2 separate regions of the Homo sapiens genome follow, and region 2 is reported to be linked to region 1. The links are microRNA targets in miRTarBase. Many come from high-throughput screens and were not tested one by one. Region 1 holds a microRNA gene; the other region holds the end of a gene's coding sequence.
Evidence for each region. The annotated mature microRNA hsa-miR-548e-3p reads AAAAACUGAGACUACUUUUGCA and lies in region 1 at 2,134-2,155, opposite strand. An mRNA with a match to its seed (bases 2 to 7 or 8) in the 3' UTR can be bound and repressed. Matches are read on the target gene's strand: a 7mer-m8 pairs with bases 2 to 8, a 7mer-A1 pairs with bases 2 to 7 and ends in A, and an 8mer does both.

Region 2: miRTarBase lists JMY as a target of hsa-miR-548e-3p. The part of its 3' UTR that is shown has no 7-base or 8-base seed match.

The regions. Positions count from the first base shown.
Region 1 is chr10:110,987,133-110,991,132 of GRCh38, reverse strand. MIR548E (microRNA 548e) reads right to left here and starts at 2,207; the gene lies at 2,120-2,207. All of the region lies in intron 3 of SHOC2 (SHOC2 leucine rich repeat scaffold protein), which reads right to left.
Region 2 is chr5:79,315,718-79,319,789 of GRCh38, forward strand. JMY (junction mediating and regulatory protein, p53 cofactor) reads left to right here. Exons shown (of 11, transcript NM_152405.5): 10 at 283-593. The coding sequence ends at 590. LOC102724530 (a long non-coding RNA gene) reads right to left here. Exons shown (of 3, transcript XR_001742756.1): 3 at 1,292-1,917. Among named protein-coding and RNA genes, the nearest start is that of JMY, 82 kb to the left of the region's middle.

The sequences.
Region 1 (4,000 bases):
AAAATATTAAATAATAAAATATTGTTAGACTATTTGAGACAGAGAAGAAGGCCGAATGAAAATCATGCTATATATATCTATCTGATCAGTTGAAGGAGCAGGCAAAGTTACACAGATATTTAGGAGAAAAGAGTTCTAAACAGAGAGATGGGAAGCACAAAGATCTCAAGGCTAGAATTTACCTGATATGTTCAAGAAACAATAAAATGTCTAGCATGTTTAATATCCTAAGATATACATAGTGACTAAACATCAATGAGAGGGATAAGAAAATCACTTGATAACATTTCAAGTATCTTAAATTTTGGTTCTCCTGTCTGATTTGCAGTAGAGTAAAGCAACATTTTGTTGTGTTTTTTTTTGTTTTTTGTTTTTGTTTTTTTTGAGCAGTAGCAAGATTTATTGCAAAGAGCGAAAGAACAAAGCTTCCACAGTGTGGAAGGGGACCCGAGTGGGTTGCCAATGCTGGCTCCGGCAGCCTGCTTTTATTCTCTTATCTGGCCCCACCCACGTCCTGCTGATTGGTAGAGCCGAGTGGCCTGTTTTGTCAGGGCGCTGATTGGTGCGTTTACAATCCCTGAGCTAGATACAAAGGTTCTCCACGTCCCCATCAGATTAGTTAGATACAGAGTTTCGACACACAGGTTCTCCAAGGCCCCACCAGAGCAGCTAGATACAGAGTGTTGATTGGTGCACTCACAAACCTTGAGCTAAACACAGGGTGCTGATTGGTGTATTTACAATCCCTGAGCTAGACATAAAGGTTCTCCACGTCCCCACCAGAGCACCTAGATACAGAGTGTCCATTGGTGCACTCACAAACCTTGAGCTAAACACAGGGTGCTGATTGGTGTATTTACAATCCCTGAGCTAGACATAAAGACTCTCCACGTCCCCACCAGACTCAGGAGCCCAGCTGGCTTCACCTAGTGGATCCCGCACCAGGGCTGCAGGTGGAGCTGCCTGCCAGTCCCGCGCCATGCGCTCGCCTTCCTCAGCCCTTGAACATTTTGTTTTTCTAAGACTAAGAATTTGGATCTTATAAAGTCATTTTTTGAAAGTGCTTTTATGTGACATTCCACTGAAAGTGATTATGATGAGATTATGCATTATTCTTTCTTTTCTTCTTTACCATTCCAATTAGTTTGTTGTTCATACTAACCAAACTTACAGATACATATTTTAATGTAAAAACATACAACACAAACTAAATATGTCACTGTGTGACATATTTACTATACTGAACACTATACTGAATATACACTGAATATATATGGCAAACAGAAAGCATATATACCCTGAATATATACTGAATATACTGAAGAACACTGTACTGAAATAAAACTTAAACCTATATGTTGAATTGGCCCAGAGTATACTAGGAAAATATGATCCTGAAAAATAAACACTGATAAATAAAATATAGTTCTTAAAATTTCAGAAATCTAGAAATAATACTTTGGCTGGCCAAGCAAAATGACTAAGTCACTTATCATGGGGAAAAAAGAAAATGGACTGGCCTCTTATTTTTGTACATTCAATTCCAGAAGAAGGTAGAACTACCTGTTAACAAGTTCTACTGAGATCCTCAAGGAAAGGCAGTTTGATCCAATTATTTTGTATCTATCTAAATTGTTCTTAAATTATAAAAGCTACACACATGCAAGAACTATAGGAGAATACTGCTCCCATGAACCATTTTTGAGCAAATGACTACCAACCAGATTGACTTCAGCCAACCAAGAAATGACTGAGGCAACTATGGCAACAGGACTGCTGATAAACATTAAGACTAAAACAAAAATGGGAATTAGTACAACAAGGTATGTTACCTATGCTGACAATGCAGTTAACAAAAATAAGAAGAAAAAGAGACTCCTCCAGAAACGGCAGAAAGTAGAATAAACTCATTGATTGCCTCATCTGTACCATGATTCATATTTATGGATCACTCCACCCAACAAAAGTAGAATACACATTAAACTGCACATGGAATACTTTTACCATGATGAAAGAATTCAAGTCCTATCAGGAATGTTCTTGACCACAATGGAGGTAAATTAGAAGTCAATAATATATCATGGAAAATTGTCAAGCTTTTGGGAACAAAATAACATTCTTCTATCAGGTTGGTGCAAAAGTAGTCTCAGTTTTTGCCTTTAAAAGTAATAGCAAAAACCGCGATTGCTTTTGTACCAACCTAATAAAGCCATAGATCACAGAAGAAACAAAAGGGTAAATTAGAAAAAACTTTTAAAAGGAAAATACAACATATCAGAATTTGTGGGATGCTGCTGAAGCAGTACTTAAGGGGAAATTTACAGTGCTAACTGTCTTTATGAGAATAATAGAAAGGTCTCAAATTAATGACCTCAAGCTGCCACCATAAGAAACTAGAAAAAGAACAAATAAAACTCAAAGTAAGCTGGTGAAATAAAGTTCAAAATGGAAATCAATGAAATAAAAACCAGAGAAACAATAGGGAAAATCAATAAAACTAAGAGAGGATCAACACAATTGATATACTTCTAACCAGAATGATTAAGAAAAAGAGAAAACATACAAATTCTTGATATCAGGAATTAGAGAGGTGGCATTACTATAGATTCTACAGATATTAAAATAATAAGAATGTTATGAACAACTTAATGCTTTTAAATGTGATAATTGAAATAAAACAAATATATTCCTTGAAAGACCCATATGACCAAGTTTGCTGAAGAAGAAAGTGATAACCTGAATAGCCCTATATTTATTAAAGTAATTGAAATTGCTTTAAAACAAATTCCCATAAAGAAAAGTCCTGTCCTGGATGGCTTCACTGGTGAATTTTATCAAATATTAAAGGAAGAAATAATGCAATTTCATACAAACTATTCCAAAAATTGAACATACGTAGCCAGCATTACCCTGAAACCAAAAACCAGGTAAAGATAGGTTGTATAACATTACATGTGAATTTATTATTTATTCAAAACAAATACATCTAATATTTAAAACTACCACCAGAATGTAACTTTTTAATTTATTTCTTCTTGGTAAGCAATTTTGGTCTTATTATCCGGGTTTTTATCAAGTTCAGGGAAACATTATAAAATTATATTTTATAACTATCACCACTATTTGGCCTTCTGGAACGTCTAGTCCTATCTGCCATGACTTTTTAACTTTTCACTTCTTTTGTATACATTTCTTTTTGATCTAGATTCTAGGGGACTTTTAATTTATCCTAGAGATCATCACTTTGGTCTCTGGCTGTGTTCATTTGGTTATATGGAATTTTCCATTAAATTTGATTTGGCAAACATATCTCTAAGAATTGTATTTTATTCTTTGTTCCCTTTTTGTATCAGCCTCATCATGTTTTAAACATGCAGTTTAAATATCCTATGTTTTTTTTCTCCTAAGGTCACATCTCCTTGTTCATCTTGGCCATTTCAATAGATTTTAAAGAGAAAAAAAAGCATGAAATAATTGTGCTTGGTCCTTATTATCTTGAACCAGAAATCTGATTCTCTTATTTTATACAGGACATTTAGTAGAATATTTATTTTGGATATTAATAGAATAATTCATTATGTGTTGGAGACAATCTTGCCTTTCAGAGGGACATCTAAACCATAAACCAGTTAACTAGAATATGTAATCTCTTTCCACTACAAATAGTAATACGATAGTGTCATGGGCCAAAAATCAGGGAAACATAGATTCTAACGGCTATTTATTACATCCATGTCTCAGCTTGCTTTTCTGTAAATAATTGTCCTGTATAACCTAAGACAATCTACTCAACCCTGCTAAGAAATTCCCTAACAACTGCTTTGTTTCAAGTAATGGTAGGTAATTCAAATAAATTCTCCCAATAAAAAAATAAATAAATAAAAACATCTTCCAAAACCAAAATCAGAGAGTTAACAACGTAATGACTAAGCACCAGAACAGAAACAAGCTGGGAACCCAGATACAAGCAAAACAATGGAGATAATTCTGTCCTAAGAAC
Region 2 (4,072 bases), not on the chromosome of region 1:
TAAGACCACCTCCCAGTTCCCAATCTGGTCACTTCTCTCATGTAGGAAATGATAGGAATACCAACAGTACCCACCATGGATTGGGTCTTGGGATTTTCTAAAAAGAAGGATAATTAGGATCCCTTGTGTTCTGATCACCTTCTGCACACATTTCATGATCCATTTTGAAGATGGTGTTTCAGCGTCCTGTGCTTTCACAGTTGCGAACGGTAGAGGTTATACAGTTTCATTCTAATTAAGTGCAGTCCTAACTGTAATACTGTTCTGTTTCATTTTCCAAAGTGAGCTCACCCATGGATGAGGTGCTAGCCTCCTTGAAGCGTGGTAGTTTTCATCTGAAAAAGGTTGAACAGCGAACTCTGCCTCCTTTTCCTGATGAAGATGATAGTAATAATATCTTGGCACAAATAAGGAAAGGGGTAAAATTGAAGAAGGTACAGAAGGATGTTTTGAGAGAATCCTTCACACTTCTACCCGATACAGACCCTCTAACACGGAGCATCCATGAAGCTCTTAGAAGAATTAAAGAAGCATCCCCAGAGTCAGAGGACGAAGAGGAGGCTTTACCTTGCACAGACTGGGAGAACTAACAAGTAAACGGCCTTATTGTCTTTAGTAGCATTCAGTAATACAGGTTTTATATCGGATGATGAGGTTTGGGGTATTTTTTATTGAGCCTGAGGCATATCGTTTGTTTTATAACCCAATTTTAGCATGGATCACAAATTTATGAACTTCAGGTTTTACTTAATTCTGTAGTTTCTAGAAACTTAAGATAACTTTTTAATGATTATTGCTATGTAAATACTATTTTTAAAAATGTCCTCCTCATTAAAAATTTCTGCTATACAGCTGTAATTGCAAGTAAAGTGACAGTCTCATTCTTGCCCTAAAAAAACAGAAAAGGGCCTGGCACAGTGGCTCACACCTGTAGTTCTAGCACTTTGGGAGGCTGAAGCAGGCAGATCACTTGAGGTCAGGAGTTCAAGACTAGCCTGGCCAACATGGTGAAACCTCTTCTCTACTAAAAATATAAAAATTAGCCGGGCGTGGTGGCGGGCATCTGTAATCCCAGCTACTCGAGAGGCTGAGGCAAGAGAATCACTTGAACCCAGGAGGCGGAGGTTGCAGTGAGCTGAGATCGTGCCACTGCCCTGGGCAACAGAGTGAGACTCAGTCTTAAAAAAAAAAAAAAAAAAAAAAAAGGCTTTCCAGGTTCAGTGGTTCGCTTCTGTAGTCCCAGTTACTCAGAGGTTGAGGCATGAGGATCTCTTGAGCCCAGGCGTTCAAATCCGGCCTGGGCAATATAGCAATACCCCGTCTGTAAAAAGAAATCAATACGTCAATTTTTTTTTTAATGCAAAGCCTTTTCTGACAAAGTATTTCAGTAACAAACTGTTATGCACACTGAATTTTGATGTCATGTTAGCTGACCTCAAAGGAGTTTTCTAAGATCATTCTGGAAAAATTGTTGCATTGTCTGATTATTTAACTTTCTAAACCCTTAAAAAAAACTACTTATTGTCACAGTTACTGTATTATCTAGACAAATTTGCAGGTATCATTAATATATAAAAATTATCTACATATCTAATGAATACTCCTATACATATTAAGATTCTCTTTGGTTACACATGTAGCATTCTCCTAATATAATAGAGAGCTATAGTCTACTACATTTTAATATACTAATTATAGAGTAATATGGCACAGATTACACCAAATATATAGAAACATTAAAGATAACATGGTATAAATTAAACAGTATATCAAATTTATAATGATGGTAACTGAAATGTTGTAATTTGTATAAAATTTATAGAGTATACAAACATGTTCTATTAATTATTATTCTTTCTTGATGGAATATGTTTCTCTAGGCTTCAAACATTCACCAAAGTAGGGAAGACTTGAGTCCTAGAAGGGAATAAGTAAAGGAATAATTAATTCATGTGTTAGCCCTGTGAATTATTTTTGTTGAATTTCTTTTTTTATTTTAGAGACAGAGTCTCCCTCTGTTGCTCAGGCTGGAGTGCAGTGGCACGTTCATGGCTCACTGCAGCCTCAACCTTCTGGGATCAAGCATCCCAAGTAGCTGGGACTCCAGACACATGCCACCATGCCGGGCTAATTTTTTAATTTCTTTGTAGAGACAGGGTCTCCTTATGGTTGCCCCGATTAGCATAATAATTCTTAAAACATGTTTGATCATAAGAATTAACTTGGGGAGCTTATTAAAAATGGACATTCTGTCCTTGACTTAAGAATTCTGAGTAGAACAACAAAGAAAAAAAATCTTTTTTTGACAGGGTTTCACTCTCTCACCCAGGGTGGAGTGCAGTGACATGATCTCGGCTCGCTGCAAGCTCCACCTCGTGGGTTCAAGTGAATCTCGTGCCTCAGCCTCCTGAGTAGCTGGGATTACAGGCGACTGCCATGATGCCCGGCTCTTTTTTCTTTTTTTTTTTTGTATTTTTAGTAGAGATAGGGTTTCACCATCTTGGCCAGGCTGGTCTCGAACTCCTGACCTCAAATGATCTACCCACCTCAGCCTCCCAAAGTGCTGGGATTACAGGTGTGAGCCACCATGCCTGGCCCAAAAAAAAGAATTCTGAGTAGATCTAATGTATATGCAAGTACACATCTAGATTTTGAAGACATAATATAAAAATGTAATGTATGTCAGTTTTTAAACAACTGATTACATATTGAAAGATTCTATTAGTTACATTAGGTAAAATATTACTGAAAGCAGTTTCACCTGTTCCTTTGGGTATGGGTTCATTAGGTAAATATTCCTGTAGTACCTCTCCACCAGCATCTGCATCAATCAATAACTTAAAAAGGGTAATATTACATTCACCATGATTCAGCCAACATTCAGTAGTAGCATTATCCTGCTTTTTTTCCTATTATGTATACAGTTACATGTAACAGTCACTTTGTATGACTTATGTTTTTGGATCCCAAAGTAACTTCGAGTTATTTTTGCTTGTACATATGTCCACTATGCTTTGTAAAGGAATATATATATATATATATATAGAGAGAGAGAGAGAGAGAGAGAGAGAGAGAGAGAGAGAGAGGGATGCATATCAGTTTGTGAATGTCTAGACTCTCAGGTATGTCTAACTGGGAATCTTTTCCATAGTGGATATTTGTAGGTTGTCTCCCACTTTACAGTTCTTACTACCATGTGTTGTTTCCTTCTGCTGTAGCTTCTCAGGAAGCTGCTTAAGCTTGTGCCTAAAACTACCATCTTTGCACTGACTAATTCCACAGCTGGACCTTCACATAAATGTGTGTTTAGCTCTTTCATTACAGATGGTCCACAGTGGCCCATTCACAGCACACCAGCAGCTGCTCAAGTCAGCCTATCCTTGTCTGTCTCCTCCCATCCCACCATATCCTGCCTAACCCTAGACATTGCATCAGCATTTTGTATACTCAAGTGGCTGGGATGTTACTCATAGCTTCTGGCTACTAATTTAGCCTTAGTATCAGATGTTAACATGGTGCATGGTGTATACACTTTGAAAATTGCTTAAAACTTTTTTCGGGGGTGTGGGAGACGGCTGATGGCTGGAATATGTGGTACAATGTTGAGAGAGAAACAGTGAAACACTTAGAAAATATATGAGCTTGGAAGTTTGCAGTCTCCCTTTACTAAATGTGTGCTAACCCAGAAGCAAACCATAGACTAGTATGGACTGATTAGGCAGTGATGAAGTAGCTGTGTATCACTACTTTGTGATCATGGAGACTAAAAGGCTGTGAACTTTTTATCTACAAATGGCTAAGAAGGCTTTACCGCAATTTGTATTTCCCATTAATTTATTAGATTCCTTTTTTTTTTCTCTCTCTCTTTTTTTCTTTTCTTCAAGACTGAGTTTCACTCTTGTTGCCCAAGCTGGAGTGCAGTGGTGTGATCTTGACTCACTGCAACCTGTGCCTCGTGATTCAAGAGATTCTCCTGCCTCAGCCTCCGGAGTAGCTGGGATTATAGGCGTGTGTTACCACTCCCAGCTAATTTTTGTATTTTTGTAGAGATGGGGTTTCACCATGTTGGCCA